Homo sapiens: one gene and its partners. The protein of the gene in region 7 purifies or fractionates together with the protein of the main gene of each other region. This does not show direct contact. Each region holds a gene or a part of one and is shown on either strand. Other genes may lie near its edges. The genes, in order: WBP11, PTS, PIP5K1C, NUSAP1, ARHGEF2, CYFIP1 and ARHGEF1.

Region 1 (4,434 bases), on a different chromosome or scaffold from region 7:
TAAATTATATATTCAGGGTTTGTATGGGCACATTAAGACTTTAAATATGCAAAGAAATTAGTACCCGTATTTTATTTTTCAAATTTGATTGACTTGCAAAGTAGAATTGGCTGAAATCTTTCTTTTTATATTGGAAATTTTGAGCAAATTAGTTTTGCGAGCCCTTGTTTCGCGTTTTATGTTATGTTTTTCCTTCAGATTCATAGTTGTTTTTTATGAAACATTAAACAAAAATGTCTTGACATTTTTGGTTGTCATAATTAGAGGGATGCTCTTGGCATGTAGTGGAGAGAATCCAAAGATGCTGCTCTTTTACAGTGCATACTGTAACTTTCCACAATAAAGAATTACCTGTATTAAATTGGAGGAAATGCTAATGTTCAAGATTCAAAGATTTTATTATATCTCCCTCTCTCCTTTTAAAGGAAAGGAAGCCCGGAAGAGAGAATTAAAGAAGGTATGATTTTAGAGGCATCTTATAAAACTTTAAGTATTGTTTGGTACATCTTGTGATTTGGGATTAGTGGGTTTCAGAATAACATTTCTAATATTTTCTAGAAAAGGTACTTTATGCTTTTTATAAAAACTGTAAGATATACTAAGCCAAACTTTATTTAGGAACTGAAGTAACTTTGCAGAGAAGCTCACTACAGGTTATAATGCCATTGTTTGATTACTTTTCCCAGTGAGTTAAAAAATACTTTTGAAAATAATTCTTTTTTTTACTCATTAAAACATAACTGTTTTAAAGTCTACTGATGAGGATGGAAATAAACATGATGCTAGATAGCTTTATCCATTTTCCTGATTAGCTGTCTATTACATATATTACATTAGCTTAAATATATATATGTAGGTTTATAATATTTATAGATATATTAGATTTATATATCCATTTTCCCAATTAGCATTCTCCTCTTAGCTGTTGAATTTGTGGCAAAGTACTTCAAAAGAATTAGAAAGGATTTGCCTTATAGTATTGTGCTTTATAGTATTATAGTATAATACATTGAAGCAACACAGATTTTAAATAATGTTCGATTGTGTTTTCATGTTTAGCATTAACTCCTGCAAAATTTTTAAATATTCTTTATATAATTTTAGAATTTAGCTTCAACCTTTGCTTTGGACTTCAACTAGCAGAGGTTTTACAACAGGGGGCAGGAACAATCACCCAAGGTCTTCAAGAACATAAGGGGTTAAAAAAAAGAAATTTAAAGTGTATGTGTGTTTAAGTAACTGCTAAAGATCTCAGAGTTCAAAGAAATACTTTACTAAGAAAGCACATCTTAAAAATAGCATTTCTTTATCTTTTTGACAAGTGTAAACATTTTTAAGGCAAAAAATTACATAGCTGTTTCTGGTGGTTGAAACAAGTGATCAGAAGCCAAGGAGTTATTCTGTTTAGATTCTTAAAGCAAGTTGAAGTAAAACTCCTGAGTGCCTGACTTCTTGACATCTGCCCTTTTATTTTTCTAAGAACAAAAAACAGCGCATGATGGTTCGAGCTGCAGTTTTAAAGATGAAGGATCCAAAACAGATAATCCGAGACATGGAGAAATTGGATGAAATGGGTAAGAATTTACAAACAGGCAGCTATAACAGTCTGACACGTACAGAGGCAGGCAGGTAACGAGTGAAGCAGCATAGGCGTAAGTAAAACAGAACAGCATGATGGCATTTGATGCTTGGATTTAATGTTAGTTTCAGGGAGACAAAATGGAGTGCTAGAGGGCTGTTGCAAACTGGAGACCCCAGATACCAGAATAAGAGGGAAGCGATTATTTGGCTTTCAGTTAATTGTTATTGTGAGATAACAGAAGCACAGTTTGGCCAGCTTGCTTTTTGGGAGAAGACTTAATCTGATTTATGAAATAACCTTGGGTTTTTTGTTTGTCGTCTTTTATTTAATGTTGGCAACTACCATGTAAATCTAAGTATTAGGCCCCTGTGAATATAAGGCAATTTCCAATTTTTCCAATCAGAAGATCCAAAAAGATACTTATCCATTTAGTAAGGATATAGAAAAAAATCATCAAATACCTAAAAACCAAATAATAAAATACTATACCAGGATTCTCTGCCTTTTTCACATTTTATAGAATAGTTTTATTCACTCTTCATATGCATTTTAAGTATCGCTGCTTTGTTATAACTGGAATCACATGAAATAGCTGCATGTTATCTTTTTTTGCATCTAAGTTTGAAAATCATTGATGTTGCCACTGGAAATTTTATCCTAACCCACAAATATCCATTCTGTTTAATATTAGAACATGTAGAATATTTTGTTTTTTTAATAGAAATTTTCAAACATGCAAGAAAATAAAATAGTCTAGTTAACTTCCATGTGCTTTTCACCTGTCAAGTTTCTGCCACTTTGTCTTCTACCCTTTGCCACTTTTGTAAAATAGCATTTTAAAGTGATCGTTACAAGTTCCATGTTTTGCCCAAAAACAGAGTAGTAAGTAAAAGAGATGGAATGAAACTCCTCAATGATACATTAAATGGGGTACAAAAAAAAAATTCAGTCATGGCATTAGGCTATTACAAGGTTTCTGAAATAATGTGGGAGAATCTGTGCAGCTAGCCTGGCTAAGAGTTCTGGGTCAGGCTTCAGGATCCCAGATATTTCCCAGTTCAGTTGTAACTGATTCCACTTCCTGCCTCTGGTCTAAATATCAGCAGGGATAATTACTTTCCTTGGGGAATCAGGGAATCCTTCTTTAAATGACCCCAAATGTTATGTGTTGTTTTAAAAGGAGATAATAGGAATAACTGAGGTTTCTTGAGTAGTTGTCTTGCTATACACCTACGCACCAGTTTTTTTCCACCAGTTTTCTAATCGTCACAATTTTTTAGGGTAGGTGCACTGTCCCTATTATACAGGTAAGAAAACTCAGGCATGGAGAGATTACATAGCTTTCCTCAAGGTCACACTGCTATGTAGTGGCAAAGCTGAGATTAAAACTCAGGCATTCAGCGCTTTTACTAATCACACTAGGATTAGTATGGTGTAAGAATACGCCCTCTGGATTTGAATAAATTGCCAAGATTAATAATAGTTAATAGGATTTAAGGAAGAAGATAAATTTGTTATTCTTTTAAGAAAAAGGAAAGGGGTGAAGAGAATACTATTCATCAGGGGTCTAGTTACAATTTATAAAACTCAATACAGACTAGTTAAGGCAGAAAAAAGCATGCATTGGCTGTCTTAATTAAGAAGTCTTAACATAAAAAAAAGATGAGAAATCCCTGAGAGAAACTAGCCTCAAAATCCAGTCTCATCATCAGTACTGTCCATCTGTCTAGTCTGATGTCTGTTAGCCTCATTCAGCTTACTACTAATGAACTCCTTGGGATAGAAGGTGGAATATATGTGTGTAATTAGTGATGATTGAGAGACAAGGCCACAGGCAGCTCTAGGTTTGTTTTCTCTCTACATAACACATTCAGAAAGAAAATCTGAGAGCTTATCTCTCTCACATCTACATTTAAAATCTCAGGGAATGTTCTGGTCCCAGTTTGGATCATGTGCTAATTGATCTCTGAGTCATTCACTGAAAAGGAAGATGGGGGGATATGATTGACCAGGCAGGCCTGGAGGTCTTATTCTTGGGATAGAGGACCTGCAGTTAAGCCCCATATTGACACATGATTAGTTAGGGAGAGAAAGGATTGTATAGTAGCTAGGCCAGGAATACGGATCTGTTATAAAGATTATAGTTAAGTGGTGAGTCAAACACCACTGGATATTTTATTTGTAATCCCATTGTATCATCATAGCTTTATTACAAAGTGATTAACGTCTCCATTTTTTAGATGAGGAAGCAAAAAATCAGAGAATTCAAGTAAAATGCTTAAGATCTCAAAATTTGACAGGACTAACGTAGTAGGTAAACACAAATCTGACAGAATCTTCACGAGGTTTTCAGCACAGAGCAGTGAAAATTGATTTTTATTACAATGAAGATGAAAGTCAATTAGGTGGCATTTCTGAGAAAGGTAAAATTAGTGGCCATCTAAAAAGGGTGGGGATTTTAATAAATATTGTAGTTCTTCGAATAAAATTGAAAAGAGTATGTCTGGTGTCTAGATCTCTTAAAAATTTTTTAGCATATATGGAGGTTTTTATCATGTAACCTATTGATACCTAATTGAAGTGGCCTCTTATATTTAATTCCATAATCTACTTTTTCTCTTAGAGTTTAACCCAGTGCAACAGCCACAATTAAATGAGAAAGTACTGAAAGACAAGCGTAAAAAGCTGCGTGAAACCTTTGAACGTATTCTACGACTCTATGAAAAAGAGAATCCAGATATTTACAAAGAATTGAGAAAGCTAGAAGTAGAATATGAACAGAAGAGGGCTCAACTTAGCCAATATTTTGATGCTGTCAAGGTAATCAAGGTTTTTTTTTTGAGAGATAAACT
Region 2 (3,457 bases), on a different chromosome or scaffold from region 7:
CAGAAAGACCCTGAATGTTAAACATCCAGTTTGCAATTTATTTGCTGAATGATCTAAAGCAAATAGTTTAAACTCTCTCAACTTTAATTATCTTACCTAAAGAATGAGAATACCTACCTTGCAGGGTATTTGTGTGAATTAAAACATAAAGTGTCTTAATAAATAACAGCTATCTGCCTTTCAAGTAATCAATACAAAACATTCTACATAGAGAACAAATTGTTTGATAACTAAAATACATTCAAATATAATTCAGTGGCCATTTGCATTACTGTCAAACTTTATATTTCTGCAATCACTAGAAAAGACTATTCTTTGCAAGTTTTTCTAGAATAGTAATCACTGCAAAAGTCCTTTTACTATTTTCAGGCAACAACATTCTGGGAATTCATTGTATACTAGTTGCTATGTGGAGAGAAAATCAGAACCCTGCGTTTAAGACATTTAGAAAACAAACAAGAACACAGAACAGTCTTCCGTGCAAAGTAAGCAAATACTTTCTTGTGGATTTAGTCACGAGGAAAAGATCCCAGAGAAGAATGCCAAGCATATAGTAAGTTTAATAATCAGAACAAAATGGGATCAATTAGGAAAAACTATATACAGGAAATATTTTATATGGTAGTTGATCCTTTTTATGCTGACTATTTTTTAGAGTTTAAAATATGATTATTCTGCAGTCTTCTGAGTTGAAATTATTCAAGTGCCCATCAGGTTCAGAAATTCAGAGGAGTATACTGAATAATTTACTGATATTCCATGATATGTTTAATGTGTTGTTCCTCACTAGCAATTCATAGTTCAATACGCTGTGCAAAATTGTAATGAATGATGTGCTCTAAAGCAGCATTTCCATCAATATTTGTACGTGTATCCACAACAGATGCCTCACATGATTTGTGTGTCTAATTTTCACTGAATCCACTTATGCCTTCAGCACACCCAACAAGTAGTAATCAAGAGAGTTCAATCTATTAAATATACATATATATATTGTCTCCAGACTTTGTGGTCACTTGAATTTTATTTCTTTAAGATTCACCTACTCGAAGTCACATAAGCATTTTAACCATGTATATTATACCAAGTAAAAATTAATACTAAAATGAGGTAATGGAGAAAACAAAATTAGATTTCTTTTGCTTTCAAATAATCCCACACCAAAACATTTTGTGAAAATGAAGTGATTTTTAATTTATAAATAAAAGACTCTCTAAATGATTTTCAGGATGTATATTACAAGTTTAGTTTTAAATAGACTTAAATTTATAACAGGTCTTACAATGATTTCAATAAATAGGCACTCCAGAGCACAATGTGTACGTACAACAATCACGTGTTGACCTCTTAATATTCCAAGGGGATCAAAATCTTTTTCAAACACAGAAAGAAACTGGGCTTTGTGCAATGCTAACCCCAATAGCTATTCTCCTTTATAAACCACAATATTATTGTCAGTTTCGTATACTTTTACTTTATAAAGAACTCCTACAGGAAGAACTTTCTGGAGGTTGTCCCAGATATAAACAGCTACATTTTCAGTCGTGCTATAAGAAAAAAAAACAAAAACAAAAAAAATTCAAAATGCAAACAATAAAATTTCATGTTTAATATTTACAGAAAATAGAAATTCTAGTTTCGAAAGATTTCATTAAATTAAAACTTCAGAAATCACACAACAATCAAAGTATTCAAATCAATTCTTGTTTTACAATCCACATAAGGCAAGATACAGTGCCACCCACCTCACCACATCTGCAAAGTATGGCACATCCATATCCAGATTCTTATGATCAAGGGGCTGCATAATCGCCTCCTAGAGACAAAACCAAGGGAAAATATCATTGACTCCATTTACGACTCAAATTCCAAATTGTTCCACTTATGCCTCTAAACCTCACCTTATCACTTAGCCACTAACTAAATATTTGTAAGTACTAGATTTGAGTCTTACAAGGCAACTTTACAAAATTTCAAGTTGTAAAATAAAGTCAGGCCCAGCTGTCGGTAATGATTAGGAATCCTTGTTACTGAATAAAAAGAGGTGAGAAACCAAAAAGCAGAGAATTCCTGGAGCTTTCTCGCAACACAAGCCATTGTAATTCAGAATTCAGTTTAACACTTTGTGAATCCTGTCCAAACAGTTAGCACAAATATTTTTCCATAACACTGTCACACCTACGGAACAATGCCACAATATCATAAGGACAAAGATCCAGTGACTACTACATTTTATAAAGCAGACCTAGACTGAAATTATGTAAGTAGTTCTAAATTTTTGCTATGAGGAATAATTTAAGAATGATCTTGGGCTCATAGAAGGAAAAATATATATATGTAAAGACTATTACTCCCTAATGCTCGTGTATATTAACATAATGTTTTTCCTCATCATCAGCAAGGATTAAATTGCCTCATTCTTTCTAGGTTTTTGCTTTTAGCTATTGCAAAAAATCTAAGCATCTGTGAAAAAAAAATGTAATTTTCCATAGGACGTAGTTTGAAGAAGGGTACATTAATAACAGTAACAGCAATCATTTCTTGAGAAAAACTAGAATCATACAAAAAGAGTAAGTCCTAGATCAAACAGTTATTGAAATATATCCAATGAAGGGATGTTCCACATGAATAACAAGAAAACGGGCATCCTTGCTTCATCTTCAATCCCAGTTCCAGTCCCAATTTCTCCATTAAAGCCTCTTATGCAGGGCTTTTTGTTTTCTTTTGTTTTGTTTTTAGAGACAGGGTCTCTGTCATCCAGGCTGGAGTGCAAGTGGCATAATCATAGCTCACTGCAGCCTTGAACTCCTGGACTCAAGCAATCCTCCCCCCACGGTAGAGCTCTAACTTTACTCTACATGCCATGATAAGCCACTTTTACTGATGAAAGTGTGTGGTGTCCTTCAGGCATACAAAAGCAGAAAACAGCATAGAGAAGCCCTCCTCCAGTATTTAGTCATATGTTGAGGCCTTTTATGTTGCTGTCTTGTCTCTTTTCTTTCTTTTCTTTTCTTTTCTCTTTTTCTTTTTCTTTCTTTCCCCTCCCCTCTCCTCCCCTGTCCTCCCCTCCCCCTCCTCTTCTCCTGTCTCTGTCTCCCTCTCTCTCTCTCTCCGCCTGCCCCCCAACCCCTGCCCCATAAATGCATGCTGGCCCTATCTGTATAACTTTCCTAAAGTATTTTGAGCATAGTGCTGTTTCTTCATTCACTCATTCTTCTACTCATTTATTAAATCAACAGTTATTTAATAATATTCTTCACCTCCTAGAAAAAGTAATGTATACACTCTGTGGGCTACATCTCATTCATCTTTGTACACTTAGCTCAAAAACTGATGCGAAGTAGAGAAATTTGTTGAATATATGAATAAGTAATGTGAAAGAAGTAATCATTACTAATAACATCATTTTAATCAAGCAAATGTCAAATCTCAGAACAAACCTAAGCTGCAAGTGAAA
Region 3 (4,434 bases), about 38 Mb from region 7:
GGGGGTTGGTGCTTGGGGTTGCTGGGGGCTCATAGCAAAGCCCAGACAGGGCCGCCGCCCACATATACCCCACGTCCCTGTGGCCCACCAGACCCCTACCGGTCCCTGAGGCCAGGAAGCACCACAACCTCTTGGTGGAAAACCGGGGTCTGCCTGGGGAGGGACTGCGAGCCCGAGTTCCCTGTCCTGCCCACCCGACTGTCTCTATGAGACACACTGGGACCTGGCACAGTGCCTGCCCCTCCTGGGATCCTGCAGACCAGTGACTCCCATCTAATGAGCTGGCCAGGGATGCCTGCAGGCTTCAACCCCTTCTATGTGCGGCCCAGCCCGGGCAGGGCCCCCACTTTCAGATGGACACTGACAGCCTTGGGGAGCACCAGGTGTTGTGGTTAGAGAAGCCTGTGGCTCAGCATGTAGGGCCTGAGCGCAGATCCAGGCTCACCCGCTGGCTGTGCGGCTCGGTCTCTCTGGGCCCTGGGGGCCGACCTTAGCGGTGGGGTGAGGTGGGGCAGGTGATGTCCCGCACAGGGCCAGGCCTGTCCTCAGTGCTGTGTGAGCTCTGCCTCCTCACCAAGCTCTTGTGACCTCTGCCCCCAGAATGACCCACACAGCTCCTGGTAAACAGTAGGTGCTCAGTTTGCCTTGTGCAGCTTCCTACAATCACCAAAGGCTGGCAAACAGCCCTGGATGACGGAATGATCCTGTGGCATCGGTCCCAGAGAGTGGGGTGTGGGGACAGGCTCAACGGCTGGCTCTCTGGAGACAGATCCTGACACGTGGTGTCTGCCAATTCCCACGGTGTTGATGAGAGGGGGTCCCTGACCTCGAGGCCGTGAGCAAGTGTGCAGGCCGGGAAGAGCAGCCTGCCTGCAAGCGCTGGGCACTGGCGTGCCTGTCCCTGCCACCTCCCTGCAACCCCCGTGGGTGCGGACCCGCAGATCATTCATGCCCCCCACCAGACACTTCCCAAGCATCTCTGTGGGCCAGGCCTGTGCAGGATGCTGGGGAGCCCGGGAGCCTTCTGGTGGGGAGGGTGGCTGAGAAACAGACCCCAGGGGGGAATCCATCTGGCAGCAGGTTGGCCACGGGCTGAGGTCTGCACAGGGGCCTGGAACCCAGAGTCTGCGTCCAGATGCTACAGTGGCCCATGAGGGGAAGCTGAGCCCTGAGAGATGGGGACCTCCCCCGGGCACCCTGTGGGTGAATCCCGAGTCCCCACCTTCCCCACCACTGTTTGCCCTGGGACCTTCCCGACCATGCCCTGCTGGGCTAGCCTCCTGCGTTCCCCTGCCCGGGGTGCGTTTCCTTGGCGATGGTGATGCTGTGGGCAGCCCCACACACTGTGAGCTATCTGCTGAGTCAGGCCCACCCATCCCATATATAAACACTGTACCCTCACAGTGCTGTGCCAATGGGGAAACCAAGGCACAGAGGCAGGTGCCTGCTCAAGGCCACATGGGCAGGACGAGGCCAGGCTAGGATTCAGGCTCTGGCGGTGGCTCCAGACCCGTGCTCTACCGCTGTGCAGAGCAAATATCCCGACTACCCTACCTCCGGATGAGGCCCGGTCTGAGGGGGGCACAGGGGCTCTGAGTTTACTGCCCTGCCCAGGGGGCTCTCGGCCTCCCGCAGAGTCCCTCCTGCCCCACGGCGCTCTGGGCCTTCCCCAGGGTCCCTCCCGCCTTGCGGGGCTCAGGTGGCTTACAGGAGTTCTTCCGAAAGACCGTGTTGCTCATGAACTTGAAAAAGCGCTCGGCATAGAAGCTGGGGCGGTGGACGGACACCGTGTCCTGGAAGAGAGTTGGGGGGGGTGCCCGGGGGCAGAGGGTGCATCAATCAACAGCTGGGGACAGCCCCAGACAGACGCTGTATGTGTGTGGGGGGCACCTTCTGTGTGAAAAGGCTCGAGATGGGTCCATGGCGCCATGGCTTCCTGGGAGGGGCTCACGGAACAGGGAACAGTGGCTCCCTCTGGGGAGGGAGACTGGGTGCCAGGGAATGGGTGGAGGCTTTTCCACTAGAGACCTGTTAGCATTTTTGACTTTTTAAACCAGCTGAATAAAGTATTCCGGCCAGGCACAGTGGCCCACGTGGACTTGTAGGGGAGGCTGAGGCAGGATGGCCTGGCTGGGGCCCTGCTGGGATGTGATCTCGGCCTCCCAGAATGCAACCTCCTTTCCCAGCCTCCTTGGGTGAGGAGTGGCCACGTACCAGGACTGTGAACGACTCCACCCCCGCAGGCTGCAGTGGGAGGTGGTGCCCGGCCACTCTGGGCCAGGGGACAAGGACAACCCCAGGGACATGCGGCGGCAGCACAGGACACCCTGGCCAGCCTCGTCAGAGCCGAGACAGCGCTCCTATCTGCCCTGGGCAGCAGGTTCCGGGCCTTGGCAAGGTTTAAGACATCCCCAGAGGCCTCTGCCAGCTGCCATCCTGACCCGCTCAAGGCTTATTCTGGAAGCTCCTGCCTGGACCTTCTACACGCTCTTTTGAAAAATGGGGGTGCCTGTTGGGATCTTGGATTCTACAGGCTGTGGTCACACAGACGTTAGTCCTCAGTGCCTGGCCCCAGGCGGTACTCTGCGTTTGTGGAGTGACGGATGGGAGGAAGGCTGGGACGACAGACAGGAGGACAGAGGGAGGAAGGATGGGAGGAGGGGTGCAGGCACTCACAGAGGGAGGAGGGATGGGAGGAGGGGTGCAGGCGCTCACAGGGAGGAAGGATGGGAGGAGGGTGCAGGCGCTCACAGAGGGAGGAGGGATGGGAGGAGGGGTGCAGGTGCTCACAGAGGGAGGAGGGATGGGAGGAGGGTGCAGGCGCTCACAGAGGGAGGAGGGATGGGGGGAGGGTGCAGGCACTCACAGAGGAGGGATGGGAGGAGGGTGCAGGCACTCACAGAGGAGGGATGGGAGGAGGGTGCAGGCACTCACAGGAGGAGGAGGGATGGGAGGAGGGATGGGAGGAGGGTGCAGGCACTCACAGAGGGAGGAGGGATGGGAGGAGGGTGCAGGCACTCACAGGAGGAGGAGGGATGGGAGGAGGAATGGGAGGAGGGTGCAGGCGCTCACCCCATCGTGGACGAGGGCCTTCCAGGTGTGCTCCAGTTTCTTGATGAACCTGTGGAGAGAGCACCCGGAGTGGCAGCTGACATCAGCCAAGCCCATGCCAGGCCACCTCACTCAGGGGCCACTGTGCACCCCCCAGGACACTGGGCCATGGCCTCAAGCAGTCGTGGCTGTCAAAACTCAGGGTGGCAGGTGCTCCTGGCAGGGAGTGGGTGGAGGCTCTCTGCTCAGTACCCTGCAGGGCCCAGGACGGCCCCACCCCAGAGAACCATCTGGTCCCAATGTCCATAGTACCGAGGGGGTGACTGTTTTTAAACATTCTAGAGCCCCAGCTGAGCACGGTGGCTCACACCTGTAATCCCAGCACTTTGGGAGGCCAAGGCAGGCAGATCACCTGAGATCAGGAGTTCAAGACCAGCCTGGCCAACATGGTGAAACCCCATCTCTACTAAAAATACAAAAATTAGCCGGGCGTGCTGGCGCGTGCCAGTAATCCCAGCTACTGGGGAGGCTGGGGCAGGAGAATAGGGTCGACTCAGAAGGCAGAGGTTGCAGTGAGCCAAGATCGCACCAATGCTCTTCGGCCTGAGTGACAGAGCGAGACTTTGTCTTAAAACAAACAAATGAAAAACCAAAAAACAAATATTCGAGCCCCAAAGTGAGGCCTCAAACCCACTCCTTGGATTTTCTTTTTTCTTTTTTTTTGGGACAGGGTCTTGCTCTGTCACCCAGCCTGGGGTGCAGTACGGCCATCATAGCTCACTGCTGCAGCCCCAGACTCCTGGGCCCAAGGAATCCTCCTGCCTCGGCCTCCCAAGTAGCTGGGACTGCAGGAGCACCACCACGCTCAGCTAATTTTTTGATATTTTGTAGAGATGGGGTCTTGCTATGTTGCCCAGGCTGGTCTCAAACTCCTGGGCTCAAGCAATCCTCCCGCCTCGGCCTCCCACAGTGCTAGATTACAGGTGTGGACCACTACGCCCAACTCACTCTAGATTTTCAAGGCGACCAAACACCTTCCCTTTAGGGCTCAAGAAGGGGCAGCCAAGCAAGAGCTTTCCAGGTTGAGGAAGCCCCGAGAGCTGCTGGTGCGGCTGTTTCCACGGGCAAGCGCCTCTGTGCATGGGTGTCCTGGGGGCGCCCATCCACCTGTGGGACTGCAGACCCAGGCGCCCACCTGTGGGGCTGCAGACCCGGGCGCCCACCTGTGGGGCTGCAGACCCGGGCGCCCACCTGTGGGACTGCAGACCCGGGGCGTCCACCTGTAGGACTGCAGACCCGGGCACCCACCTGTAGGACTGCAGGATGTCGATGATGCCAATGTGCAGCAGCAGCCGCTCCCCGCGGCCGTTCACAGCGGGGATC
Region 4 (4,434 bases), on a different chromosome or scaffold from region 7:
TAGGAGAATCACTTGAACCCGGGAGGTGGAGCTTGCAGTGAGCCAAGATTGCGCCATTGCACTCCAGCCTGGGCAACAGGGTGGGACTCCATCTCAAAAAAACAAAAGAAACAAACAAAGAAAAAAAAGAAGCTGGGTGCAGTGGCTCACGACTGTAATCCCAGCACTTTGGGAGGCCGAGGCAGGTGGATCATGAGGTCAAGAGAGCGAGACCATCCTGGCCAACATAGTGAAACTCCGTGTCTACTAAAATACAAAAATTAGCTAGGCGTGGCAGCGTGTGCCCAAAATCCCAGCTACTCAGGAAGCTGAGGCAGGAGAATCCCTTGAACCAGGGAGTCGGAGGTTGCAGCGAGCCGAGATTGCACCACAGCACTCCAGCCTGGCGACAGTGAGACTGTGTCTCAAAAAAAGAAAAAAGTTATAGCTTGAATGTTTGTATCTCCTGCGATCCCAAATTCATATTGAAATCCTAACTGTCAATATGACTGGTGTAAGGAAGTAGGGCCTTTGGGAGGTAAATAGGTCATGAATGGGATTCAGGGCCTTATATAGGGACCCCATAGAATTTTCTCTAGCTCTCTTTCTGCCACATGAGCATACAACAAGAAGTTGGTAGTCTGCTACCTGGAAAACAGCCCTCACCAGAATCATGCTAGTGCCCTGATCTGCCCTCATCCAGCCTCCAGAACTATGAGAAAGAAATTACCGCTGTTTATAAGATACAGTCTTTGGTGCTTTGTTATATAATAGCAGCCGCAAAGGACTAAGACAATCTACATGAATAGTCTGAAATAGATGAAAGTCTGAAATAAGGGTTAAAATGGAGAAAAGGGGAAAACAATAATTGAGGAAAGCTAACCATTGAGATTAATTTCCTTTGCTAAGCAGCTTTGTAAATGTTCTGAATATTTTGTTTTTGTATTTTTAGTAGAGACGGGGTTTCAGTGTGTTAGCCAGGATGGTCTCAATCTCCTGAACTCATGATCCACCTGCCTTGGCCTCCCAAAGTGCTGGGATCCTAGGATCAGCTGGGAGTTTAGAATTCTGTTGAAGGAAATGACGGTAACTTTTCAGCTTATTTCCCTGATAACAGATATGGCTCACACCTGTAATCTCAGCACTTTGGGAGGCTGAGGCAGGAGGATTGTTTAAAGTCAGGAATATTATTAATAAGGGCTCTTATCACTTCAGAATATTAATTTTTGGCTGGGCGCGGTGGCTCATGCCTGTAATCCCAGCACTTTGGCAGGCCGAGGTGAGCGGATCACGAGGTCAGGAGTTCAAGACCAACCTGGCCAATACGGTGACACCCTGTCTCTACCAAAAATACAAAAATTAGCCGGGCGTGGTGGCGGGCACTTGTAGTCCCAGCTACTCGGGAGGCTGAGGCAGGAGAATGGCGTGAACCCAGGAGGCGGAGGTTGCAGTGAGCCAAGATGGTGCCACTGCACTCCAGCCTGGGTGATAGAGTGAGACTCCGTCTCAAAAAAAAAAAAAAAAAAAGAATATGAATTTTTGCACCACGAAGTTAAAAATATCCAGGATGGTGTAGTTTTTTTTAATTTTTTTGAGACGGAGTCTTGCTCTGTCTCCCAGGCTGGAGTACAGTGATGTGATCTCAGCTCAGTGCAACCTCTGCCTCCTGGGTTCAAGTGATTCTCAAGTGAGTAGCTGGGATTACAGGCGCGTGCCACCACGCCCGGCTAATTTTCGTATTTTTAGTAGAGACGAGGTTTTGCCATGTTGGCCAGGTTGGTCTCCATGCCACCATGCCCAGCCTAAGGATGGTGTAGTTTAGTTAGCCTTTTTGCTACAGTTGGCCATCAGTTAATCCTTTCTCTCCCAATCTCTTTTTTTTTTTGAGACAGGGTTTCACTGTGTTGCCCAGGCTGGCTGGAGTGCAGTGGCACAATCTCGGCTCACTGCAACCTCTGCTTCCTGGTTCAAGCGATTCTCCTACCTCAGCCTCTTGAGTAGTTGGGATGATAGGTGCATGCCACCATGCCCGGCTAATTTTTGTATTTTTAGTAGAGTTGGGGTTTCACCATGTTGGCCAGGCTGGTCTTGAAATTCTGACCTCAAGTGATCCACCCACCTCGGCCTCCCTAAGTGCTGGGATTACAGGCAAGAGCCACTGCGTCCGGCCAATCCTTTCTTTTCATAGGGGGAAGCCACAGGTCATTGCCAAATGTGAACCCTTGCCTACATCTGTGAAACAGCAATCAGGATCTAAGACCACTTAGTTAAAAAAAAGCACAAAACCCTGTGTTCAAGCTATCCCACTGTATCAGTATCAAATGCTGACAGGGAGTAGAACAAGGGACTGCCATACACTGCCACTGGAAGCACAGATTGGTACAATTCATTCAGGACAGTAAATGTCTGCATATTTTCCAATCCAGCTGTCCTGCTCCTAGGTCTAGGGAAACTCTTGCACATGTACAGGAGACATGTTTAAGAGTATTCATAGCAACATCATATATAATAATGGAAGCTGGAACCACCCACATGTTCGTGAATAGTAAAATAGATAAACTGACATATACCCACACCACTGAAAAATACTGTGAAAACGAGTCAACATGGTTGAATCTTGAAACATGAAGTCTGTGGTCTGGGATCCTGTTAGTGTCAGAGTCCTCCAGGACCTTTCCGAGGCTGCAACGAATACTGTGCTCATCCTCCGAATCCCTGAGTCCCACAAGGGGCACAGTGCCCTTCCTGGAGGGTCACCATTTTAGGATTAGATGGAGCTCTCAGGCAGATATCTGGTTTTTGCTTATGTCTCTGGCATTTCCCCCACTAGTACACAATTAAAAATACACTATGGTAAAATTTTTGCTTTTGATTATAGAAATGGAAAGGGTTTAAGGAAACAGATACAGGCCGGGCGCAGTGGCTCACGCTTGTAATCCCAGCACTTTGGTAGGCCGAGGCGGGCGGATCACCTGAGGTCAGGAGTTTGAGACCAGCCTGACCAACATGGTGAAACTGTCTCTATTAAAAATACAAAATTAGCCGGGCATGGTGGCATGTGTCTGTAGTCCCAGCTACTCAGGAGGCTGAGGCAGGAGAATTGCTTGAACCTGGGAGGCAGAGGTTGCAGTGAGCCGAGATCCCGCCATTACACTCTAGCCTGGGTGACAAAAGCGAAACTCCATCTCAGAAAAAAACAAACAAACAAAAAAAACAGATATACCTAATCATTTTGGGAAGTTACATGGCTTAAAAATGAAACAGATTTCTTTTGTTTTTTTTTTTTTTTACCAGCAGCAGAATTCCCCGTGATGGTCTTTAATTTGTGTGTCCCAAGCACAGCCTCGCCTTTTGGGGTGCCCCCAGACACGGTCACATGTGCAGACTTTCTGGCTGGAGTCTTGGTCAGTGAACGCTTATGCTCATTATCTTTAGTAGCAGCTGAAAACCTAAATAGGACAGCAGAGTACAAGACATGAGTACTGTGGCAAGAGTAACTTGTGTCTAGCTTATAAATAAAACCACTTGACTATTAGCAAGCAGTGAAAAGGGCCTCAATTAATAATTGTCATAGGAACGAACCTCTTTTGCAGAAGAGACATATTCCTAAAAGGCTAATGCTAAATTAAATCACATATCAACTAACATTATTTGTAAAATATGTTCTTGTCTTTTCTGCTCTCCCTGCCTTGGACAATGATGGTGATGGAGGAATAGGTGTGGAGGCCTCATTATAGTCCAAGAGGCAAGCCAAAAGCTCCCCTTCCTCCTCCTCCTCCTCCTCCTCCAGGTTAGGGGAAGTCACAGGTAGCAGAAGACTGCTATGCTAGGTGAGTGGTGAGAACAGGTCTTGTATGTTCCTAAAAGAATGTCATTCATTTGTGTGGTAGAGAAATAAGCCCATTCTTTACCATTCTTTACATATGGCAAATTGCCACAAATGTATTTGATTGATTGACTGATAGTATTTTTTCTACATTTTAACATCTCTGAAATTGGGATGTGTTTTTACAATTCATAAGATGTCAATAGTTAATTGGTAGTGTTTTTTCTTGAGACAGGTTCTGGCTCTATTACCCAGGCTGGCATGCAGTGGTATGATCTCAGCTTGCTATAACCTCTGCCTCCTAGGCTCAAGCCATCCTCCTGCCTCAGCCTCCCGAGTGGCTGGGACTATGGGTATGTGCCACTGCGCCTGGCTAATTTTTTTTTTTTTTTTTTTTTTTGAGATGGAGTTTTGCTCGGTCGCCCAGGCTGGAGTGCAATGGTGCGATGTTGGGTCACTGCAACCTCTGCCTCCCAGGTTCAAGCGATTCTACTGCCTCAGCCTCCCCAGTAGCTATGATTACAGGCATGCGCCACCATGCCCGGCTAATTTTGTATTTTTAGTAGAGATGGGGTTTCACCATGTTGGTCAGGCTGGTCTCAAACTCCTGATCTCAGGTGATCCGCCTG
Region 5 (4,434 bases), on a different chromosome or scaffold from region 7:
GTAAGAACCATATGTCTTCTACATGTCGAGGCTTCCCACAGTCTCCAGCACGGTGTTAAGCGTGGAACAAGCACAGAGTAAAGACTGAAGACAGAGATAAAGAAGGGATAAAGAGAGGGTGTTGGAGACCAACAGCATCAAGAGGTAGGGACCTAGTGGGCAACCTGTGGGATACCAGGCAGGGTCTTGTAGGCCAAGAGGGAAAGGGTTTTGAGAGGTAGGGGCTGGTAGAAAGAAGGACACAGCCGGGTACGGTGGCTCACGCCTGTAATCCCAGCACTTTGGGAGGCTGAGGCGGGCAGATCACCTGAGGTCAGGAGTTTGAAACCAGCCTGGCTAACATGGTGAAACCCCGTCTCTACTAAAAATGCAAAACTTAGCCAGCATGGTGGCAGGCGCCTGTAATGAGAATCGCTTGAACCTGGGAGGTGGAGGCTGCAGTGAGCCGAGATCATGCCACTGCACTTCAGCCTGGTTGAGAGAGTGAGACTCCATCTCAAAAAAAAAAAAAAAAAGAAAAAGAAAAATAAAGAAGGAAGTAGATAAACAGGACCTGGTGAAGGAAGAGGAAGACTAGGGTGGTCTTGGCTTACCATAGATGACATCTTGCTGCTTCATCACCTCCTTTTTATGCTGCTGCAGGAAGCTGCTGTCCACAGCAAGACTCCAAGAGTCAGCTGCAAAGTCCTTCTCATCCATCTCAAAGTCACTCATCAGCTCACTGTAGATTACCTCTGCTGGACATTAGCAGGGCAAGCAACTCAGAGGTCTTGAGTTCCCTTCCCTGGGTCCCTGGCCCTTCTCTAGATCCCTTCCCTCCTTGTCCTTCCAGGCTACTCCCACCAGCCTCTCATCCCCCAGCCCCTCTTCATGTTCCTCAGGGCTCCCCTGGGCCCAGGCCTGCTCACCTTCGTCAATGAGGGATTCCACGGATAGGGTTCGGTTCCGCATGTTGAGGGAGTCTGTGGACTGTGAGAGGATCCGGCGCAGCCCCAGGGGAGACTCATCATTGAAATGTCTGAAGAAAGTGGAGGCTGTCTGCATCACCCCCAGTCGGGCAAAAGATCCCTTCCCAGGTAGGGAACCAAAGCCAGGATCCAAGAGGCGGTCCCCCTAAGTTCTCCTTATTTGTCTGTCTACAGTTCTGAACTCAGGGATGGAAAGGGACCTCTCAGCACCCCCTTGGCCTCCACTGCCACACTCTCTGGCTGCCCCTTTCCCCAAACAGAGGCTCACCCAGCAATGTTGGTGGTAGAAACACTCTTGGCTAAAGACAAGGAGGAGCGGCCACGGCGGGAGCCCAGGAGGGACTGCCGGAAGCTGTCGGAGGGGTAGATGGCCGAGCTTGGCCGCTCCCGGATGGTTGCTGTGGGGGAGAGATGCCCAGCAGGCAAACATCAGACTCTGGTGCTTCCCAGGATTGAGGCCTCCTAGGCTCCTCAATGAGGAATGAGGCATCCTCTCACTCCACCTCAGCCCCTCTAGTCAAGAAAGATGGTAATGAGAATGCCACCTTACATTTGTGCCATACTCTAATGTTCACAAAGAGCTTTTTCTTACTTATCTCCTCCCTGACATAAGCCTATAAACAAACAGGAGCTCAGAAAGACAAAAAGACTTGTCCAGGGTGACTTGGGTAATGGCTAGGCAGGGACTGAGGCTCTGCTCTTTATACCTAAGGGCCATGCTCTTTCTGTTACACCAAAGCTGTCTGAATTGACACTTGACAGCTGCTACCAACACTCCCGAAATGCAGTGTAAATAACTGATAAAAATGCAGGCTGCGGCCAGGCTCAGGCGACCACCCATCCCCAGCCCTCATCCCCATTCGGACTCTCTCTCCCCTTCTGCCTCTAAGTCCAAGAGTCCGAACCCTCCCTTAGGCCCCCACTATCTGCTTCCAATCAAGAAGAGGAAGGTGCTATGCCTGGGAACAACCTTAGTGGGGCAGCAGAGCCCATGGGTTGAGCAGCCTGGGGTCCAGGGTCTTAGGGGACCTCCTCCACTCCCCAACTACTCACTCTTACTTCGAAGAGAAACGGACTGCAAGGCGGTGTTGTTCTTCAGCAGGGCCGCTTTCTGTTGCTGTGAGACAGAGAGCAGGAGAGAGATACCAAGAATGGCTGTCACCCAAGGATCACCCCCAGAGGCATGGGACAGGAGCTAGGTGGCCGGCCCCCTTAGGAGAAAGCTGGCACTATGGTTAAGGGGATCAGGGTGATTGAGCCCAGTGCTGTGGGGACATGTCTGCAGCAACAGGCCTGGCCTACTTGGGGCCCGAGGCCTGGGGTTGAGGGTCTGGGCTGCCCCTTGGTGAGGAGGTGGGTGGTGAGAAACACAGGGTAGGGAATGAATGGAAAAGGCATGAGGGTACCGCACACTCACTACCCTCTCCCCCAGCCCTCTGCCCTCCCTGCCGTCTCACCTTCTGCTTGACCTTGGTACAGTTGGCGAGGGTGTCTTTACAGCGGTTGTGGATAGTCACATTGCAGGCTGGGAGGGTGGGGTAGAGAGGGTGAAGGGAGGGCCGGGTGGTACAGGAGGGGACACACCCACATGCAGACACCCATCTCCTCCTGGCCACACAGTCCTCGGGGACTCTCCCCCCTTCCCCGACTTCTGGGCCATTACCACACCCCAGTCCCTCTCCTCCCACCTCCCTCTTCCTTCAAGCAGGAAATGAAGTGAGGGGGGTATAGGTGCTGAATGAAATTAAACAATCAAGTGGGATGGGCAATCCTGACCCCAAGGTGGCCTGAAGGGCGGACCAGAGGGGAGCAGGGGTCACTGGCTGCCAGAGATGAGCTCAAGAAGCACGAAGGTGGTTGCGAATGGCAGATGGAAGAGAGGACTCCCACAGAACAGAAGATGGCACAGAGGCAGCCAGAATGGGGGCTAGGGGCAGAGGGGAAATTTACATTCCCTGAGCTTTTATAATAGTAAATGTTCCACATTTACTTAATCCTAACCACCCGTAGAGGGAGGTTCAGTTATCCTCATTTCATGTATGAGGAACCTGTCCTGGAGTGGCTAAATCGTCCATCAGAGGTCACACGGCTAGTGGGAGAGGTGGTGTTTACACTCCGGTGGGCCTGAATCCAAAGGCCGTGCTCCTTCCCTCGCACCACATGCCCTGGACTCTGGCTGGGCCTCAGCAGCTCCAAGGCTGATTGATGGCTCCAGTGGTAAAGAAGGGACAGGCAACTCCCCACCAAGCCTGGCCTTCTCCCTTCCAGGCCCAGGGAGTCCTGTTCCCCCAACTCAGGCAAATCCACAGCTCCCACACTCCATCTGCTTCTCCGCCATCCTCCACCCCACCTTGCCATGGGGTAGGAGAGAAGAAGAAAGGAGGATTCGCTGAGCCTAGGCACTGGGACCCTGGCCGTGCCCTTCCCAGACATGCCCTCAGCTCCCGGCCCTCTCCAGCTTCCCCTCCCCCATCCAACAACACCGGAAACTCTGCTAACTCTTTCAGACAATACCCAGCACCACGCTCACTTCCACAAATACAAGGCAAACAGGGTGGAGCAGAGGGGGCAGACAGAAGTGGGGGTTGCAGCTGCCCCCACCCCCCTGGAGCTCCCTTCTCCTACCCCCAACACTCAGTGTCTCTGGATTGAACCTCCGCTTTCCACCTGCTCTCAAAATAGTGCTGCCCGCCTCCCCTGTTCCCCTGGCAACAAGCTTCCGGATTGGGAATTTTGTCAGGTCTCTATAGGGATCTAGATTGGGGTTCCCTCCTCATCCTCACAACTCTAAATTGAACAGTGAGGAAAGTAGGGAGGCTTCACTGGTTTTCTTTTCTTTCTTTTTTTTTTTTTTTTTGAGCGGTAGCAAGCTTTATTGTGAAGAGCAAAATGACAAAGCTCCCACAGCGTAGAAGGGGACCCGAGCGGGTTGCCCATCACTGGTCCTTTCTGGGGGTTCCTTCCCCAAGTTTCATAGGGATTTACAGGCTAGAGCTTTTGTCCGCTATTCAGTAGCAGGTCACAATACCTTCAATCCTGCTCTAATCAGAGGCATCTCTGCCATAACTTCAGGAGGAATTGAGGGAGAGGGGGCAGCAGGAGCCCTCTGTGTACTGGGGAAGGAAAGAATTCCTGGCTTATACTCCCTAAAGACAGGACTACACTCAGATGTGGATGAAGGGCAGGAATTCTAACCCCTGCCCCTCAACACACACATCCCTGCTACATTCCCTCTTTCTCACTAGAAATTTGAGATGAAGGGTCCTAATCACATCTTCTGCTTGAAACAGCAGAGATTTCAGGCTCCACCCATAGTCAATAGAAAGAAAGGGGCAAGGGGACTGTGAAGTCCTGAATGCCCAGCTCTGCGCAGGAAGACAGGCAGAGCCAGCTGCAAGGCTGGCAGCTTTCCACCCAGTTCCTCTGTCACCCCCCACCCCACCCCCTCCACACATACAACATTCCT
Region 6 (4,434 bases), on a different chromosome or scaffold from region 7:
AGTCGAGAGACATGGCCAGGCTCTGGTCATGTGGGTGACTTCACATTCCTGTTGGTTACTGGGGACAGCCAGCTGCGGGCAGGCGGGGCCCAGCTCTGCTCCGTGCGGAGGCTGTGTTCTGCCCTCTCCCTGCCCACAGCATGACTCAGAGCCACCTCACTGCTGCCCTGGGCTAACAGATGCGAACTGGAGCTCAGGGCAGTCTTCTGGGGGTAGTAATACTCTCCAGAAGGCAGACTCCTTTTTAACTTTCCTGTTGAGCTGGTCCATTACCACATCCCTCCATGGCCCCCAGAGTAATTTGTATTTTCATGGGGGCTGTTCTGAGAGCCTTGTAGTTGGGTGAGGAGATGGTGTGATTGTGAGGCTGGAGGTCTCGGCCTCTGGGCCTTGCTGATCACTTGGTGGGGTGTTCAGTGTCCTGCAGGCCATCAGGAAGACCGTGTGTGACTGGGAGACGGGGCATGAGCCCTTCAATGACCCAGCCTTGCGGGGCGAGAAGGACCCCAAGAGCGGCTTCGACATAAAAGTACCACGCCGCGCCGTGGGACCCTCCAGCACTCAGGTTCTCGTCCCTTGAGCCCCGCCTGCACCCTCTCCCTGGGGGGACCCACCCTGAGCTGTGAGCGGGTGGGGCTGGTGAGGCCCGGGTTAAATGAGGTCCTCGCTGCCTGCTCAGGCAGAGAAAGTGGCGCCTGTGGTTTCTGCTGCTCCTCTGTTTCCCACCCAAGTGAGTTGGGAGCGTGAGGAGACGTGCCTTGATTGTCAGATGTGTCATGTGCACTAAAAAGGAGTCTGACTCCATTTCAACTCCCATCCCAAAAATGTGGGCACAAGTCCACGTGTCTGTATTCATTCTGTGTTTCTTGATGGGTGTTTGAATGTCTGTATAATTTTTACGTTGGGTCTGCAAATGACTGTAGATGGGGCGTGGGAAACTGTGAGGTGCTGCTTGCGTGTGTCATGGTCCTAAGCTGCCCACTGTCCTCTCTCCTGGTGTGTTCAGGCCTCCCCGAGGTGCTTCTCACGACTTTCACACCCGGTTTAATCCACACCGCTGCGTCTGTCCTCCGTCCTGGGGCTGGTCTTCTCCCTCATCTCTGCCGGAGGCTTTTAATCTCTTCTGCCACTCTTCTGGAAAGTCACCAGCAATGCACGCTGCTGGCTCTGCAGGAGGGTCAGGGGGACGGCCCTCGGCCTGTGCGTGGTGCCAGCCACCCTCCCTGCCTCCCTCTGCGTGCGTCCCGTGTCCCTGCCTGGGGTGTGTGTGTCGAGTGACTAACGTCTCTCTCCTGCCTCTCCCTCCTGTCTGTCCGTGTCTAGCTCTACCTGGTGCGCACCATGGCCGAGTCCTTGGGCTCTGCCGAGCTGCTCAGGCAGCTCAAGTCTCTGGGCATGGAGAGGCTCTTGCATGCGGTTAACACGTTTCTGAGGCAGTCGTGCACCTACCTACCCCTTTTAACCTTTGGTGGTAAGACATCATTTGTTTCTCTTGACGTTTATGGCACGGAGGCGAACTGCTCCGCTACAAGTTGTTCTTTCCCCAAAGCAGCAGCAACGTGGCCGCGTAGACAGGCACCCGGACCCCTCGGGGAGCTGGTGCGGGGCCCTCCCGACCAGGGCGTAGCGGAGCAGTCCTTCTCTCATGGGCTTTTTGAGTTTGGCATAACTAATGTACCATGTATATTTTCTCCCCCACAAATGTTTCCTTGGATAATCCAGCTTTACATGGTGAGAACCATGCTAGAGTCCCTCATTGCAGACAAAAGTGGTTCCAAGAAAACCTTGAGAAGTAGCCTTGAGGGGCCCACCATATTGGACATAGAAAAATTTCATCGAGAGTCATTCTTCTACACTCACTTGATAAATTTCAGTGGTAAGAGATACTGCTGAGCAGCATCCGGCCTGGCATGTCCTAACACCACTAACACCGTCTAGAATGCTTCCGCCCGCCTGACCACCCCCTACCCCGTCCCTTGGTGCACCCAGACGGTGACTCGTCCTGCCCTCTGTGGCGGTGGCTGTACGTCCCTGGCCTGAGCTCGCTCCACAGGGCGTGGTCCCTACAAGGGTATAAACTGAGGAGCCCGGGCTGGCCCTGAGACATGAACAGAAAATCTTTTCAACCCATGCGGGGTTGGAAACAGGCGAATGTAATCTGGTGCCTGAGTTGAGACACAGGCATTGATAAATACTAGAAATGGCCCTTGCAGACCATGACGTGGGGGGAAGGTGGCGGGTGCCCTGTGCCAGGCAAGCCCATCCTGGGTGACACCCGGCCACCTTGACCGGCCACCGGTGGGTGCGCTCTCTGCCCTCCGTGTGTCTGTCCCGTGTTCTCATCAAGTCCTCCGTTGTCCACCTCTTGCTCAGAACAGGATCCCTGCTGTCTTGGCTGGGGTGCTGCGAGGTATTGGAGGAAATAGTACCACTTTTGCTGTTAACTCCATGAAAGGATGGAGTTCGAGTGTGGGCTCTTTTAATCTGTCTCATTTTTGCGTTAGACAGACCTCCCTGAGTGTGCCTCTAATGCTGCAGCCTGGACATTGGTTTTTATCCTAAGTGAAAGTGAAGAAGTCCTGTTTTTTTGTTTTGTTTTTTGTTGAGACGAAGTCTTGCTCTGTCACCCAGGCTAGAGTACAGTGGGGCGATCTCAGCTCACTGCAAGCTCCGCCTCCCAGGTTCAAGAGATTCTCCTCCCTCAGCCTCCCAAGTAGCTGGGATTATAGGTGCTCACCACTGCGCCTGGCTAATTTTTGTATTTTTAGTAGAGATGGGGTTTTACCATGTTGGCCAGGCTGGTCTCAAACTCCTGACCTTGTGATCCACCCGCCTCGGCCTCCCAAAGTGCTAGGATTACAGGCGTGAGCCACTGTGCCCAGCCAGAAGTCCTGTTTTTATGTCTCCTTTTGAGAAGAACATTTTTAGGTAAGACACAGTGGCTCATACCTGTTAATCCTAACACTTTGGGAAGCCAAGGCAGGAGAATCACTTGAATTCGGGAGTTTGAGACCAGCCTGGGCAACATGGCGAGACCCCCATCTCTATAAAAAATACAAAATCAGTTGGTGGCACGTGCCTGTGTTCTCAGCTACTTGGGAGGCTGAGGCAGGAGGATCGCTTGAGCCCAGGAGTTGAAGGCTGCAGTAAGCTATGATCGCGCCACTCACCTCCAGCCTGGGTGACAGAGTGAGATAGACTCTGTCTCAAAAAAAAAAAAAAGACACTTTCCCCCTGGATCCCACTGAAGGGCTCACAGGGTTGATGAGGTGGCTTTACCTGCAGCTATGCCCAGCTGGTCCTGTCCCTAGTGCAAGGCCCCGGTGACCCCTCCCCACTCATGTCCATGCTGCATGGCTTGGGGCTGAGCGAGGAGGAGCAGGCACCCAGCACACAGCCCTTGTGTCATCTCTGCTAAAGGTTTTTTTTTGCTTGCGGGAGATAACATGGAGTTGTTTGAACCCTCCCAGAAACGCTGCAGCAGTGCTGTGACCTTTCGCAGCTGTGGTTCCGAGAGTTCTTCCTGGAGCTGACCATGGGCAGGAGGATCCAGTTCCCCATTGAGATGTCGATGCCCTGGATCCTGACGGACCACATCCTGGAGACCAAGGAGGCATCGATGATGGAGTGCGTGTCCTGCGGGCCTGTCTCCAGCCTTTGTGTGTGGTGACCGGGGGTCCTCAGAGGAGGTGGCGGAGAGGCCGGGACTGTTTTTAGTATTGTATTTGAAATCAAGTTTCTGGGCCTGGGCAAAATAGCAAGACCCCAGTCTCTACAAAAATGAGAAAACTTAGCCTGGTGTGGTGGCTGATGCGGGAGGATTGCTTTACCACAGAAATTTGTGGCTGCATTGAGCTATGGATTGCACCACTGCATTCCAGCCTGGCCACGTAGCAAGACCCTGTCTCCAAATAAAAAAAAAAAAAAGAGAAATCATGTTTCCTGGGGTAAAGCTTTAGAGATTAATACAAGTAACTAACCAGTTTCTTGGTGTCAGACTGGAATTGAGAGCTCAGGCACTAGAACCAGTCACGTTCCTACTTTGCATGGGTGCTGGCTGGGACCCGGGGACTCAGCCTGGACCAGGGAGATGGATGAACCTGGACCTTCCCCAGGCCTTCGTAGTGCAGGCCCTGTGAGGTGGCCATGCCCGTGAGCTGCCTTGCGGGAGCCCTGTGGCCTGGCCTTTTGTGTGACACAGCCTCTGACCCAGATGAAGTGGGGAAAGGAAGTATTGATTGAACAGCTTTGTTCTGGGGATCAGGACTGTGGACCTAGATGGAAGGGCAGTCTTTCAAAATATAAAGTTCATGGAAGGGAAAGTGTTTGGAAAAGGGTGTGTCTCATGGTGAGCGACTGGGGAGCCGCCCAGCCGGTCTGTCTTCTGAGCACCGTGAGTGGGAAGCCCCTGAGTTCCTTGTGCGTCAGTCCTCA
Region 7 (4,434 bases):
TTACTACAGAAATAAAAGAACAGAGAGTGAGACTCGGGGTGCCCAGTGCTGAGCATGGGGGATCGGGGGTGGGAGCTGGAGGGCGGTGTCAGGGAGACGCCTCATACCCAGTGTGTGTACGGAGTGCCTGGGGAGTAACGGTTCAAACAAAGAAATGAATGAATGAATGAATGAACAACTGGAGGGAGGCGCAGAGGCACAGACCCAGGATGTCAACGCCAGACAGTCACAGAGAGTTCCAGACGCCATGCCAGGCCCCACCCCGCCATCACACACACAGATCTCTTCTTAGATAATATATATTAAAAAATAAACCTCCAATTCAGGGTATAAAAACAGAGCGAAGGCACTTGGGGGTGGGGGTGGAGGGGTGGCCCCCACAGGCAATACTGAGATGGCCCGGGTCACCGTGGTGCCCTCCAGAATGGAGCCCTGAGTCCCCCAAGCAGAGGGCAGGAGGGAGAGATGGCCGAGGCTCATGCGGGGCCAGTAACCCCAGCTGGGCCCCTCCCAGGCGTGGCCCACAGCTCCCTCTCCTCAGGCCCTCGGGGTGTGAGATGCTGCGGCAGCTGTGTGGGTGGGGGTGGTCCCTCACGTCCTCTCCCCCATTCCTCTCCTTCTTGCAAAAGGCCTGGGGGATGTAGGAGAAGAGGGGAGACGGGGAGAGATGGAGAGAGAGACAGGGAGAGACAGACACAGAGACAAGACAGGGAGAGCAGAGAGAGAAGGGGAGGTGGGGAGAGGCAGGCGGGCACAGAGACAGAGAAACAGATTATCAGAAACAGAGACACAGAGATGAGAAACACGAGGTGGAGTGGGGAGATTCAGAAAAGACAAAGAGGGAGATGGACAGAAGGGGCTGTAGGGATGCGAGCTCTGGAGGGGGACCCTCCTTTCAGGACAGCGCCCTGGCCCCCAGGTGCCCCACTCACCTTCCTGGGCGGGAACCTCAAGTGCAGCCAGGCTGGGGGACAGAGTTCCCCCCAAGCTGAGACAGGAGGGGTCTCAGGCGGCAAAATTCCTCCTCCAACTCCTGGTGGGGTGGGGGTCATGGATGAGGGGGGCCCCTTCCTTCCCCAGCCCACTCAGGGCACCCCTGGCCCGTCCCGCCCCACCTCCAGCTGCTTCATGGTCTCCTCCAAGCTGAGCAGGTTCTCCTGGATTTCCTGGGTCCGTGCTGGGCTCAGGGGGCCGCCCCCTGGGACCCCATCCCCATCTCGAGGAGGCCCCGCCCCATTGTCTTCCTCCGCCGGAAACAGAAGCTGCTTCAGGGACAGCACTGGCCAGGGGCAAGGAGGGGTGGAGTCAGGAGACCAGGGGGCTGGGCTGGGATCTGGGATGGGGGATTCCAAAGGGGATGTGTAGGGGCTGGAGGTGAAGGTGGGTGCCAGGCAAGGCTGAGCAGATGGGGTTCGGGGATCCAAAGGGAGGTGAAGAAGTGAGGCTGGGTTTAGGGTTGGGACAGGGCAGGAAGGTACTGAAGACAGAGATGTGTTCAGGAAGAGGCTAAATATAGAATCAAGCAAGGGATGGTGGCTGCAGAAGAGGGACGTGGGCACCCAGGACAGTGGTGCAGGCTGGGTGGGTTTGGAGCATTTGTTTTCTGGCAGCTGGGCGTAAGGAAATTTTTGACGTGGAGAGCCTTGTTCTAGTTGGAACAGAGGCACTGTTTGGGCTGGTGGCCACCCTGGAGGGGCAGAGCTGGGCTACCTTTCCGAAGGGCCGTGGCAGCGAGCTGGCCCTCGGGGCCTGGTCTGCAGAAGGGCAGGAGGTCACTGAGGATTCTCTCGGTCCGGGCTGGATTGGGGAACAGAGAGGGAGCTCAGATCCTGCCGGGCCTCCTGTGGATGCCTCTCTTCACCCGGCAGCCCCAACCTGGCCCCTCACCCAGCATCCCTCTGGTCTCACCATCAGCTGGAGACGTCTCTCGGCCACCATTGCCGTTCTCAGAGCTGCTGAGGAGGGGTTCTCGGGTGCTGAGGGGAGGAAGTGCTGGGTGACCCCACACCCCTGGCCCTGGGGGGCCGCAGGGGCAGGGAGACAGAGAGCTGGAGGTGGGGAGGCAGGGAGGTCCGGAGACAGAGACAGAGGTCGAGGCCGGGAGACAGGGAGACAGAGAGGCCCAGACAATGGAAGACACAGAGGCCTGGAGACAGGAGACAGACGGGGCAGTGGTGGGGTCGGCACATGCGCACACACACACACATGCATGCACATGCTGTCACACGCATGCACACATATGCATACACACACACCATACACGCACACACATGCACACGCACACATGCATGCATACACACACTATATATGCACGCACAGTCACATACTTGCGTACAGACACACATGTATGCACACACATGCATTCACACATGTGCATGCTCACACAGAGACGGTTCTGGAGTTGTGGAGGGAAGCCTGCCCCGCCTTCCGGCCCCACTCCCTGAACCTCCAGCTCTCTCCATGGCCCCCCTCACCTGCTCGGGCTGGGCCGGGGCTTAGGGCGAGAGGCAGGGGCAGGGACTTTCAGGGATCCGGCAGTCTCAGTGATGAGAGCACACCAGCTGGGGAGAAAGGCCAAATCCCTGGGCAGTCAGAGCCCCCAGACCCTATGCCAGGGCCTCCCCACAGCCCTCCTGTCCCTGGGAACCCAGAAACCTGGGCGTCCTCCACCCACACTCAGAACTCAGACCCCCCCTCACTTTTTCCGCTCCGACACAGTCTGTGCCACCAGCTCGTATATCTGGGCCTCCTGGTCCCAGGTAAAAAGGACGTAGAAGGCTTTGTGATCTGCAGGGAGAGGGGGAGATGGGGCTCAGAGCCCAGGTCCCCCCAGTGCCTGCCCCTCCCTAAGCACAAGCTGGAGAAGTCACCCACAGTGGTGGCGCTCTCAGGGCTCCCATGGCTCAACTCACCACTCACTGTCTGCTAATATCCAGGGCCCGATGTGTCCTCCTGAGCCCCACCTCTCACACCTCCTTATGGAATCGGGCATGTACCCTGGCTTACCTAACGAAACCCCTCCAGCCACTCCCACCCTCCAGCCGCTTCCAGTGTTTGTGGCCCTGGTGCAACTTCCTAGTAGTATGTTTACAAATCCCTCCTCACTGGACTCCTGGCCTTTCTTCTCCTTGTTTACACAAGACACGCCTCTGTGCAAACACCTGCAGCAGTTCCTACCTCACTTATAAACCCTCTAGGCCTGGCCCCGCCCTGCCCACCTCCACCTACTTCTCAACCTCTTTGCTAGAATGCTGGCTCCCTGGCTCTCTAGAGGGTTCTGCTCCCCACTCCACAGGCAGCTCTGCCCAAAAAAGACACCCTCTGCCCTGGGCCATGCAGTGGCTGCACTCACCGGTGGCCACCTCGCGGGTCATGGCGGAGGTGAGCCGCAGCACGGGCCGCAGCATGGTCTTGCCATCGGGCGTGGGCGTCAGTGTCCGGCTATGGGACTTGAGCAGCAGCCGCTCGTCCTGGCGCTGGAGCAGCAGCAGCAGGTCGTCCAGCAGCAGCACATGCACCTCTACGGGGCGAGCAGTGCTCACACGGCGTGCCCCCGCGCGACCCCCTCCCCGCCCTTGGCTCACTGCCCCAACACCCTGCACTAGGCAGCTGCTCTGGCACTCACCCACTGCCTTGTCCTTAGTCACCCGCCACGTCAGTGGGCCCTCGTGGACCAATTTCTTCTTGGTGATGTCCAGGTTCTGGGGCAGGAGGGGGTGATGGTTTGTGCAGGTTGGCAGGGGGTGATTGGGGTTGGTGGGGAGGGGAAGGGCAGGGCAGTGGCCGGGGATGACCACAGGCTGGGGATCATGGGATTGGCATGAGGTGGGGGACAGAGCTCTCGCTTCCTGGGTGTATTATGGGATGGGCAGGACAGGCTGGGGGCTGTATCACAGAATCCCCTGGGCCAAGGAGTAGGGGGGCGGGGGAGGCAGGAGGGTATGGTCACACCTTGAACTCGCTCAGCATAGGGTCGCTGCTCTGCCGAAGGTGGGACAAGTCCAGGCGCCGCTGATAGTCCTTGAGCCTCTGGGGCAGAGACGGGAGCATTATGGGGACAAGCTAAGTGCTGGGGCTGACCTGCAGTGACCCACATTGGTAAGATGAGAGCCAAGACCAACTTCTGATGCGGGCAAGCTGAGGGTTGGGCCTGACCTCCAATGACCCTGAGAGGGAGATGCTGAGGGCCAAGCCAACCCCTGGACACAGTGACCCTTGAGGGAGACAAGCCAAGGGGTGGGGTGTGACTTCTGGACAGGCTGAGGTAGGGTCCACCCCCTGCTCTCACACCATCCACTGTCCCGGGTGTGGGGCCAGCCCAGGCTCACCAGCAGGTCCTCCATGTCACGCACGGCTTGGTTGACGTGGTGTAGAATTTCCCGGCAGCACTCGGCTGCCAGCTCCACTTTCTCCCGTTCTGTGGGCTCTTCTGCA

The links.
Region 1: the proteins of ARHGEF1 (region 7) and WBP11 purify together in Homo sapiens (affinity purification with mass spectrometry; one large-scale study listed by BioGRID and IntAct). This does not show direct contact.
Region 2: the proteins of ARHGEF1 (region 7) and PTS purify together in Homo sapiens (affinity purification with mass spectrometry; one large-scale study listed by BioGRID and IntAct). This does not show direct contact.
Region 3: the proteins of ARHGEF1 (region 7) and PIP5K1C purify together in Homo sapiens (affinity purification with mass spectrometry; one large-scale study listed by BioGRID and IntAct). This does not show direct contact.
Region 4: the proteins of ARHGEF1 (region 7) and NUSAP1 fractionate together in Homo sapiens (co-fractionation; one large-scale study listed by BioGRID). This does not show direct contact.
Region 5: the proteins of ARHGEF1 (region 7) and ARHGEF2 fractionate together in Homo sapiens (co-fractionation; one large-scale study listed by BioGRID). This does not show direct contact.
Region 6: the proteins of ARHGEF1 (region 7) and CYFIP1 fractionate together in Homo sapiens (co-fractionation; one large-scale study listed by BioGRID). This does not show direct contact.

The regions. Positions count from the first base shown.
Region 1 is NC_000012.12:14,796,775-14,801,208, reverse strand, and holds part of WBP11 (WW domain-binding protein 11), read left to right. Parts: intron 1-425; coding exon 426-457; intron 458-1,480; coding exon 1,481-1,574; intron 1,575-4,205; coding exon 4,206-4,402; intron 4,403-4,434. UniProt on the Homo sapiens protein: Activates pre-mRNA splicing. May inhibit PP1 phosphatase activity.
Region 2 is NC_000011.10:112,231,522-112,234,978, reverse strand, and holds the end of PTS (6-pyruvoyl tetrahydrobiopterin synthase), read right to left. Parts: intron 1,817-3,457; coding exon 1,746-1,816; intron 1,548-1,745; coding exon 1,424-1,547; 3' UTR 1,006-1,423; downstream 1-1,005. UniProt on the Homo sapiens protein: Involved in the biosynthesis of tetrahydrobiopterin, an essential cofactor of aromatic amino acid hydroxylases. Catalyzes the transformation of 7,8-dihydroneopterin triphosphate into 6-pyruvoyl tetrahydropterin.
Region 3 is NC_000019.10:3,644,266-3,648,699, forward strand, and holds part of PIP5K1C (phosphatidylinositol 4-phosphate 5-kinase type-1 gamma), read right to left. Parts: coding exon 4,360-4,434; intron 3,122-4,359; coding exon 3,073-3,121; intron 1,794-3,072; coding exon 1,709-1,793; intron 1-1,708. UniProt on the Homo sapiens protein: Catalyzes the phosphorylation of phosphatidylinositol 4-phosphate (PtdIns(4)P/PI4P) to form phosphatidylinositol 4,5-bisphosphate (PtdIns(4,5)P2/PIP2), a lipid second messenger that regulates several cellular processes such as signal transduction, vesicle trafficking, actin cytoskeleton dynamics, cell adhesion, and cell motility.
Region 4 is NC_000015.10:41,370,521-41,374,954, reverse strand, and holds part of NUSAP1 (nucleolar and spindle-associated protein 1), read right to left. Parts: intron 3,429-4,434; coding exon 3,271-3,428; intron 1-3,270. UniProt on the Homo sapiens protein: Microtubule-associated protein with the capacity to bundle and stabilize microtubules. May associate with chromosomes and promote the organization of mitotic spindle microtubules around them.
Region 5 is NC_000001.11:155,964,395-155,968,828, forward strand, and holds part of ARHGEF2 (rho guanine nucleotide exchange factor 2), read right to left. Parts: intron 2,494-4,434; coding exon 2,426-2,493; intron 2,086-2,425; coding exon 2,022-2,085; intron 1,367-2,021; coding exon 1,237-1,366; intron 1,019-1,236; coding exon 909-1,018; intron 738-908; coding exon 594-737; intron 1-593. UniProt on the Homo sapiens protein: Activates Rho-GTPases by promoting the exchange of GDP for GTP.
Region 6 is NC_000015.10:22,913,919-22,918,352, reverse strand, and holds part of CYFIP1 (cytoplasmic FMR1-interacting protein 1), read left to right. Parts: intron 1-417; coding exon 418-565; intron 566-1,039; exon of another isoform or gene 1,040-1,341; coding exon of another isoform or gene 1,342-1,722; coding exon 1,723-1,876; intron 1,877-3,470; coding exon 3,471-3,627; intron 3,628-4,434. UniProt on the Homo sapiens protein: Component of the CYFIP1-EIF4E-FMR1 complex which binds to the mRNA cap and mediates translational repression. In the CYFIP1-EIF4E-FMR1 complex this subunit is an adapter between EIF4E and FMR1.
Region 7 is NC_000019.10:41,903,302-41,907,735, reverse strand, and holds the end of ARHGEF1 (rho guanine nucleotide exchange factor 1), read right to left. Parts: intron 4,430-4,434; coding exon 4,329-4,429; intron 4,081-4,328; coding exon of another isoform or gene 4,063-4,080; exon of another isoform or gene 4,030-4,062; coding exon 3,952-4,029; exon of another isoform or gene 3,950-3,951; intron 3,702-3,949; coding exon 3,626-3,701; intron 3,521-3,625; coding exon 3,353-3,520; intron 2,788-3,352; coding exon 2,700-2,787; intron 2,562-2,699; coding exon 2,475-2,561; intron 1,977-2,474; coding exon 1,909-1,976; intron 1,798-1,908; coding exon 1,711-1,797; intron 1,280-1,710; coding exon 1,116-1,279; intron 1,034-1,115; coding exon 950-1,033; coding exon of another isoform or gene 933-949; exon of another isoform or gene 928-932; intron 632-927; coding exon of another isoform or gene 323-631; 3' UTR 284-322; downstream 1-283. UniProt on the Homo sapiens protein: Seems to play a role in the regulation of RhoA GTPase by guanine nucleotide-binding alpha-12 (GNA12) and alpha-13 (GNA13) subunits. Acts as a GTPase-activating protein (GAP) for GNA12 and GNA13, and as guanine nucleotide exchange factor (GEF) for RhoA GTPase.